Linked DNA regions of Homo sapiens: region 2 is linked to region 1. The links come from fine-mapping of genetic effects on gene expression. A gene starts in region 1. The other region holds a variant in brackets. All regions are shown on one strand. Distances are from middle to middle. Region 1 holds the start of PYGB (glycogen phosphorylase B). Region 2 has its middle 66 kb from the start of FAM182A.

Region 1 (4,392 bases):
AAATTGACTAAATGAAAGTAATATTCAAATCATTACTGTCATTTCTGCATTACATCCTTATTTTTGTGTTTCATTTATCAGTATTGTGTCATCAATCACACCTTCCTAGCTAGCTATTAAAACAGTCATTCCTTTTAGCAGCACAATGGTTTATGATATTAACTTTGAGCACAGATACATTTTTCTGGGCTTGTGCAGTGGAGCAGGGCTTGGCTGGGGTGAACCTTGGCTGTTTCCCTTATTAGCTGTGTGGGCTTAGGGAAGAGTTAACTTCTCTGTGGCTCACCTTCTCCATTGTCAAGCGGGGGTAATAGCAGGCTATTTGCAGGGATCAGGAGTTAATACGTGTACACTGCAAGTAATGATCAATAAGTGTCAGCGCCTCCATTCTTTGCCAGGTGTGCACCACAGCTGGGGGATTAAACTTTACCACACCACAGCAGATAACATATTTGCATAACTTGCTTTTTGTCTTCTTAAGCTTTCCTTGAACTCAATTCCCCAGAGTGGTAGAAGTGGTCATAGGGCACTATCATTTTTATGACTTCTGAATTGCCAGATCACCCTCAGAGAGATTGCATCAGTGTTCGGAGCTTGCAGCCAAGCTCGACCCCACAGCCCTGCCATCTGTGCCCGAAGTTCGATCTTGTTGGCTCCAGAATCCCTAGGACATAGTGCAGGAGTGAATCCCGAGCTGGAGCTGGGTGGGCTGTGGGGTCATTCCAGATTGATTAACCTCCGACCTCTGAAGTCTGCAGCTGGAAGGGGCTCCAGGTAAGAAGATAACTTTGAAGCATCACACCAGGAAACCTACTGCACCTGGACTTTCATGACATTTCCTGCGGGCAATTTTTACCTCCACGAAATTCAGTAACCTTTGCAGCCCCTTCAGCCCAAGACCACCAGGAGCAAACCTGTGGTCCACAAAATCGGGTGTACTGACCCACTGCAATGAGGGAGCGCCTCCCAAGAACGAAGGGAAAGGCAGAGTTTGAAGGGGTTGAGGGAAGGCAGAGTTTAGGTGACCTTTACATGAAGCAGGGTTCCCACAGGCTGAGGCCAGCAGGACTGTGTTCCGCGGGGCCAAGTGTGGGAAGCTGTGTGCAGACGCCCCCTATCTGGAGCTGCAGCCTGGATTGGGATGACAGAGGCTAAGTCTCGGTTAGTGGCTGAGCTCCCCGGCCAGACGGGCATGTTTCCTTCTCCCTGCTGTAATCTCAAAGCGGACAGCGTCTGCCAGGTGGTTTCGGGAACAGGGTTTCTCCGAGGGCTAGGGGGCTGCGGTCCCTCCGAGGCGGGGTCGTGGTGGCATTTGGCTGTGGCTGCCTCGCGCCCTCGGGAACGGGCGTCTCCAGCTCGCTGGCAGCTGGTTTTCTCCACGTCTGTCATCGGCCTGGAGTGGCAAGCAAATAGCTGGTATTTTCAGAGCCGCCCTGCCCCGGACAGAGAAGACCGGGCCCAGCAGGCGTTGGTGGATGCCTTTCAAGCTGTAATCAGTTTCCCCGAACGTGTACCAGGTCTCGGCCACAGCCCGAGCCCAGCGCGCTCCCGCGGGGCACCTGGTGACCCGGTGCAGGGCGGGAGGGCCGGTCCCAGGAACCCGAGGGCCGGAGGGCAGGGCCCCCTTCCCGCACCGTCCCCGGGCTGGCAGGAGCGGCCACGACGGCACGCTCCGAGGCCCCGGGTCCCTTGCCCCCTCCAGTCGCTCCCACTTTCTGCCGGGCTTGCCCAACGAGGGGGCAAACACCACGCTCAGGTGGCGTGGACAGGTCGCTGCCGCCTCGGACTACACCAGAGATCTCAGCTATGAGCCTGGACGCCCGCCCCGCCCTCCCGAGGCCCCGCCCCGCCCCCCGAGGCCCCGCCCCGGCGCGGCGCGCAGGCGCGGTCCATCCCGCCCGCAGAGCCGCAGTGCCGGGCGCCAGAGCAGCGGCGCCAGAGCAGCTGCACCATCCCGGCGTTCGCGTGTGCCGCCGCTTTCCTCCTCCATCTCTTTTCCTCCGCCTCCGCCGGCGCGATGGCGAAGCCGCTGACGGACAGCGAGAAGCGGAAGCAGATCAGCGTGCGCGGCCTGGCGGGGCTAGGCGACGTGGCCGAGGTGCGGAAGAGCTTCAACCGGCACTTGCACTTCACGCTGGTCAAGGACCGCAATGTGGCCACGCCCCGCGACTACTTCTTCGCGCTGGCGCACACGGTGCGCGACCACCTCGTGGGCCGCTGGATCCGCACGCAGCAGCACTACTACGAGCGCGACCCCAAGGTGAGGCGCTGCCCCGCCCTGTGCGCCCGTGCCCGCTGAGAGGGCGCCGGTCCCGGAGCCGCGCCAGCGGGGGTCTCTGCGGGGCGGCCCGTCGGGCGTTACCTGCGCCCCTAGCCGGCCGGCGGCCAGGCACAGCCGACTGGGGAGTCGCCTGGAAGCCGCAGTCGGCGGGGCCCGGGCGTCCCCTGCGCAGGGCCGCGGCCACGGGTCCGCCCCACTGGGAGCCCGCGCCTGGCGGGGTCCGCCGTCCCCCGCAGATGATGCTGAGCCCGGGAGCCTGGCGGACGTTCCCGGTCTCTTTCTGGCCGTGCGCTTCCGCGCTGGCTGCAGAGCCGGTGCTCCCCGCCCCTGCCTCCAGCCACTCTTTGTTTTCCTGCAGCAGCCTGTGGGAGAAAATGGGACTGGAACCAGGCCTGGGCAGCCTTGTGGGTTGGAATGGGGTGAGCTCGGTAATCTGCAGGGAATTGTGAGACTTTTTTTTGTGTACGCTGCTTAGAAGAAAATCACTGAAGATGCCTGCTTCACGCAGGGAGGGGTACGAAGCTCAGAGATGGAGATGGAGCCCTCGAAGAAGGCTCTGTCTTAGAGGTTCCCACACCTCCCTTGGAGAAATTTGCTTGGGTTGAAGTTGACAGAGATCATCTTACTAATTGTTACTTTTTATATCTTGCAAAAATTTGTTTGAGTAGTGAAACAAAGTCACTGATTGTCCCCGTTACTCTTAACCATGTTTACTATGGGCCTGTGTTCTTGCTGTGTTTTTGGTATTCCTAAATATACATACACATTTTTAAAAAGTATAATGCACATACAGTTTTTTAGATTTTCTGTTTCATTCGTAAACATTTGTAACTTTTTCACTGATAAACAGCTTTGCAGGTCAATGGATAGGATGGTAGTTTTCAGTTTGATAGGTACATGGTAGTCTTGCACAGCCCCCTGTTGCCAGTTTTTTGTTGTTGTCGTTTGCTTTTAAACTCTTGACCATGGAGAATTGTCTTTCTACTACACTAACGTAGAGGGAGAACTGGTGAGGAAAAGACACACTTCCAGACCTGAAGCCACTTGGCAAAGATTTTACTTGCAGTGTACATCTAGGCAGTGAGCACTTGCTTTATGGATGGTATTTTAGAATATTTTTGTAGGGCATTAAGATATGTTTAATACGGTAATTGCTAAGAGATTGACTGCTTTTCCAAACTTATTCTGGGACATTCTTTTTTCTAAAATGGAGATGGTAAAAGGGACAGATTTGTTAGAATACCAACTGGGGCTCTTCATATTTGGTATGCAAAACATAGAAGTGGCAACGAATGGCCAAAACAGGTTATAACAAGGGCTTGGGATGACTTTGCCAGGAAAAGCAGCCAAGAAGCAGTGGCTCCCCCAGAATTCCCTGCTGTTGGGAGAGTTCTGATGCACAGCACCATTTTTTTTTTTTTTTTAATTCTGAGTCTTGCCCTGTAGCGTGAAGCTAGAGTGCAGTGGCGCGATCTCGGCTCAGTGCAACCTCCGCCTCCCGGGTTCAAGCAATTCTCCTGCCTTAGCCTCCCAAGTAGCTGGGATTACAGGCGCCTACCACCACGCCCGGCTAATTTTTTGTATCTTTAGTAGAGACGGGGTTTCACCATGTTGGCCAGGCTGGTCTCAAACTCCTGACCTCGTGATCCGCCCGCCTCGGCCTCCCAAAGTGCAGGAGTTACAGGCGTGAGCCAACGCACCCGACCCGCAACATCATTTTTATTGTCTAAGTGGCGGATGGCAAGGACATAGCTCTGCCTTCACATTCAAGGGCATTTCCTTGGAGCTGGACCAGGACTCAGCTCTACACCTTAGGGTGCCCATTGGAGTATTTATGTATAATCACATCCTGGAGAGGCCAGCGATGGGCTCAGGGATTACGGAAATGACCTTCATGAACAAGATAGTCCCTGCAACAAAACAGGTTTTTTGATCCTCCGTGAGATCTCTTTTGATTGTCTACGTGTGGTGGCTCTGGGTGGAAACCTTTCTCTTAAACCGCACAGTCTGTAAGTCGTAAAGTTGTAAACTTTTAGATCTCACAGTGTGTAAATAAGCTGTGTGCCTATTCTGAATAGGAAGGACATGGAAAATTGGGATTTAACTGCTTC
Region 2 (4,392 bases), 870 kb after region 1:
AGGGGAAAAGCCAACATGTGGCATTGTGGGGAGGGTTGATCTTTTTGGAAATAAACATTATATGCAGGACTTAAGAGTTTTTAAAAGTACCACAGAATACAAAGTGAAAAATCTCCTCACCCTTCTCCTCCAGCTGCTACCCATTTACCCTCCCAGAAGGCAACCAAAGTTACTAGTTTCTAGAGTGTCCTTTAGAAATATCCTACACATACATACACTCACACTTTTTCCCCTATGTAAATAGTGGCATACTAGAAACACACTGTTCTGTATCTTGCTTTTATTACTTAATATATCTTGGTAGGCTGGGCGTGGTGGATCACGCCTGTAATCCCAGCACTTTGGGAGACTGAGGCAGGTGGATCACAAGATCAGGAAATCAAGATCATCCTGGCTAACATGGTGAAACCCCATCTCTACTAAAAATACAAAAAAGTTAGCTGGGCACGGTGGTGGGCGCCTGTAGTCCCAGCTACTCAGGAGGCTGAGGTGGGAAGAACCCAGGAGGCAGAGCTTGCAGTGAGCCGAGATCACATCACCAACCTCCAGCCTGGGCGACAGAGCGAGACTGCATCCCCCAAAAAAAATACATATATCTTGGCAATTATTCTCATGCATCTATGGTTCTTTCTATTGCTAAAGAGTATTTCACCCTATGAGCCAGGCGCAGTGGCTCACGCCTGTAATCCCAACACTTTGGGAGGCTGAGGCAGGTGGATCACCTGAGGTTGAGAGTTCGAGACCAGCGTGACCAACATGCTGAAACCCCGTCTCTACTGAAAATACAAAAATTAGCCAGGCATGGTGGCACATGCCTCTAATCCCAGCTACTCAAGAGGCTGAGGAAGGAGAATCACTTGAACCCAGGAGGCAGAGGTTGCAGTCAGCTGAGATCATGCCGTTGCACTCCAGCCTGGGCAACAAGAATGAAACTCTGTCCAAAAACAAAAGAGTATTTCACTATATGAACGTTCATGCATTTTATAAAAGTTGTCCAACTAATTCTGATCTGCTGTCCTAAAACATGCTTTAAGTGATCTATCTCTGCACTCTCCTCCCAACTCAGACATCCCAAATAAATAAAGCTATAAATGGAATGCAGAGTCAAAAAAAAAAAGATTTTAACCCAGGGTCATCTCATTTTTTTCTAACAGTGGCCTAAATGATTAGAAACCCATGAGGTACAATTTTTTAATGCACATTGTTTAACTTTCAGCTATGGTGAGTCCTGAGTTCAACAATTACACTCAATGTCTCTCAAAGTCACAAGTTAAGTGACTTCTCCATTTTTTCCCTCATCTCAGTAATCCTTCCTGTTGTCCTAGTTTTGTGGTATGACTTTAATGGAGTTTAACATTATTATCTCAAAAAAAAAACCAAAAAAGTCAGTTTTATTTAAAAGTACTGTTCGCCCAATACAGAAGGAAAAAAAAAGTAAAAACACTAGCAAAATCAGGAAATTAGCCCCTACTGGCATACAAATTTACAGGTCAAAGCAAGCCCTTCCTGTCCTCTCATGAACTGCAGCCTGGAGACCACTACAACCTCCTTCCTCAAAACTTATCCACGAGATACATGGCAAGAGTGCTCAGATGTTGTTTTTTAACCAGAATGTTTTCCTCAAAAGTCTTAAATGAAAGCTAAATGTACAAAAGGTACAATGGGGAAACATTCTGATCTAGTGAGAATGGGAGACCTAGGATTCATCTTTTCAGTCTCCCCCTGCCCTTCCCCATCCCTCCCTCCACCCTTCACTCCAGTCCTGGCTCACTAAGATACCTCGGCAGAATACTTTACATTTGAAACCCACTGAAATGAAAGAATCTAAAGTTCAGACTGAAGGGGAAGGGAGCACCTTAAGTGGCAGTATCAAATTATGATTTCAGTTCTTAGCACCAAAACTCATTAACTCAGGGTAGTTACATGGTTGACTCATGAACTAAAAAAATTCTATGAATTATTTAAGAAATCTGATCAAGATTTTATGAGCAACTTCCTCATCTCTTACATATCAACACATAATGTTTTAGGATGAGAATAATATAGTAATAATTATATGTCACTGTCATAAAAGACAATAGCACTTCTAACTGAATTATACAGATAAACCCAGAACTAGCCTCTTATATATTGCAAACAGGTAATACAATATTGCAAAATGAAATTGATCTATTTAAGTTCCTTTTTAAATCTTCTCATATTAAATAAACACACACATATTTACTCAACAGGAAAATCTTGCAA[C/T]AACAAAATTTCAAATACTATCCTGCCAAAAAACAAGCAATTTTTCCTCTCAGCAGGAACTCCTGGCTTTTGGCCCATAACCTTTGCATAACGAAAATATGTTATGCAAAGGTGTTCAAGGTGGCCTAAACTACCTTGGAAAAAAAGCTGAAAATGGCCGGGCACAGTGGCTCATGCCTGTTATCCCAGCACTTTGGGAGGCCAAGGCCAGTGGATCACAAGGTCAGGAAATCAAGACCATCCTGGCCAACATGGTGAAACTCCATCTCTACTAAAATACAAAAAAGAAAAAATTAGCCAGACATGGTGGCACACACCTGTAGTCCCAGCTACTCAGGAGGCTGAGGCAGGGGAATCGCTTGAATCCAGGAAGCGGAGGTTGTAGTGAGCTGGCATCGTGCCACTGCACTCCAGATTGACAACAGAGTGAGACCCCATCTCAAAAAAAAAAAAAAAAAAGAAAAAAAAAGAAAAAAATGTACTTCACAGTGGCAGGACTGCAGATGCCACTTCAGATGAGCAAGAATAGATCCACCAAGCGTCACAATAGAGGTGAAGCCTACATTTCACCAAAGCAGAAAAAGGATCTTACAAAATATGCAATTTTTAACTGATAAAATAATAAAACCTCCTGATACAAAAGTATGGGATAGGGCAATGTCTCTATGACATTCAAATGCTAAAATATTAGTTATTAAACTGAAGCAAATTAGGTCACACCAGTTCCCACAAAGCTGTCCAGCTCTAGACCAATTCTAAAATTACGTTAGGCAAGACAAGGCTAAGAAAGACCACCACCCTGGGCATCCCGACACCTAAAATCCTCCAACCTAGGGATAATTTAAAGAAAGCCGACCTCCTAAACTTATTACTGAGTCCAGCATCCAGGAGAGGAAAGACTAGAAATTATCTAAGTGAATTCGGTAATTTGTACAAGACCAGAGTGGTGCTGTACTGGAATGAATTTTCTCCTGTAAAATAAACTAAAGCATTCTTCCCTTTGGGGGGAAAAAAGCTACTGCTTCTCAGCCTTTTGGTTAAGATCTAATCTGGGGGAATGCCACTGACAAGGTATTTTATTTGCAGCCTCTTTTGACATTATGACATCTTACTTAAAGACAGAGAAACAAATGGAAGCTAAAGAAAAAGCTTTTTAGTTAAACTATCCTACCTCTTATAAAGTATGATATTGAAAGAAAAATTTTAATAAGAATATAATTATTTGATAAATCTATGGGTACACATATTCAATAAGTAATTCTGGCCAGGCACAGTGGCTTATGCCTGTAATCCCAGCACTCTGGGAGGCCTAGGCAAGTGGATCACTAGAAGCCAGGAGTTTGAGACCAGCCTGGCCAAAAAGGCGAAACCCCGTCTACACTAAAAATACAAAAACTAACCGGGCATGGTGGCACATGTCTGTAATCCCAGCCACTCAGGAGGCTGAGCATGAGAATCACTTGAACTCAGGAGGTAGAAGTTGCAGTGAGACAAGATCGTGCCACTGTACTCCAGCCTGAGCAACAGAACAAGACTCTATCTCAAAAAATAATAATAAATACATAATTCTTAAATGAAAGAAAAATGATGCCCTCTACATAAAGCGCTGTCCCAAGACAGCAGTACAATGTAACAATATCCAACTGTGAACTGTGGTATGTCGGCACTACATTGAACTAATTTTCTGAACCGAACAACACTCACTCACTCAACTTCTAAGAACAAATATATTTCAAAACCAGCCAAGTGCAGTGGCTCACATCTCTAATCCCAGCACTTTGGGAAGCAGAAGAAGGTGGATCACTTGAAGTCAGGAGTTCAAGACCAGTCTCGCCAACCTGGTGGAACCTTGTCTTTACTAAAAATACGAAAATTATGGCTGGGCATGGTGGCTCACACCTGTCATCCCAGCACTTTGGGAGGCTGAGGCGGGAGGATCACGAGGTCAAGAGTTCAAGACCAGCCTGACCAACATGTGAAACCCCATCTCTACTAAAAATATAAAAATTAGCCAGGTGTAGTGGCGTGCACCTGTAATCCCAGCTACTTGGGAGGCTGGGGAAGGAGATTCACTTGGACCCAGGAGGCAGAGGTTGCAGTGAGCAGAGATCATACCACCACTGCATTCCAGCCTGGGTGACAGGGTGA

What was found. PIP is the estimated chance that this variant, and not a neighbour inherited with it, causes the effect.
Region 2: its variant is the best candidate, but not a certain one, in a credible set for the expression of PYGB in whole blood (INTERVAL, PIP 0.54).

Annotation. Positions count from the first base shown.
Region 1 is chr20:25,246,162-25,250,553 of GRCh38, forward strand. PYGB (glycogen phosphorylase B) reads left to right here and starts at 1,924. Exons shown (of 20, transcript NM_002862.4): 1 at 1,924-2,260. The coding sequence starts at 2,018. RefSeq lists silencers at 956-1,209, 1,228-1,307, 1,488-1,677, 1,688-1,877, 2,188-2,567 and an enhancer at 1,958-2,037.
Region 2 is chr20:26,118,766-26,123,157 of GRCh38, forward strand. No RefSeq gene overlaps it. Among named protein-coding and RNA genes, the nearest start is that of FAM182A, 66 kb to the left of the region's middle. The variant C/T (reference allele first, on the strand shown) is at 2,245.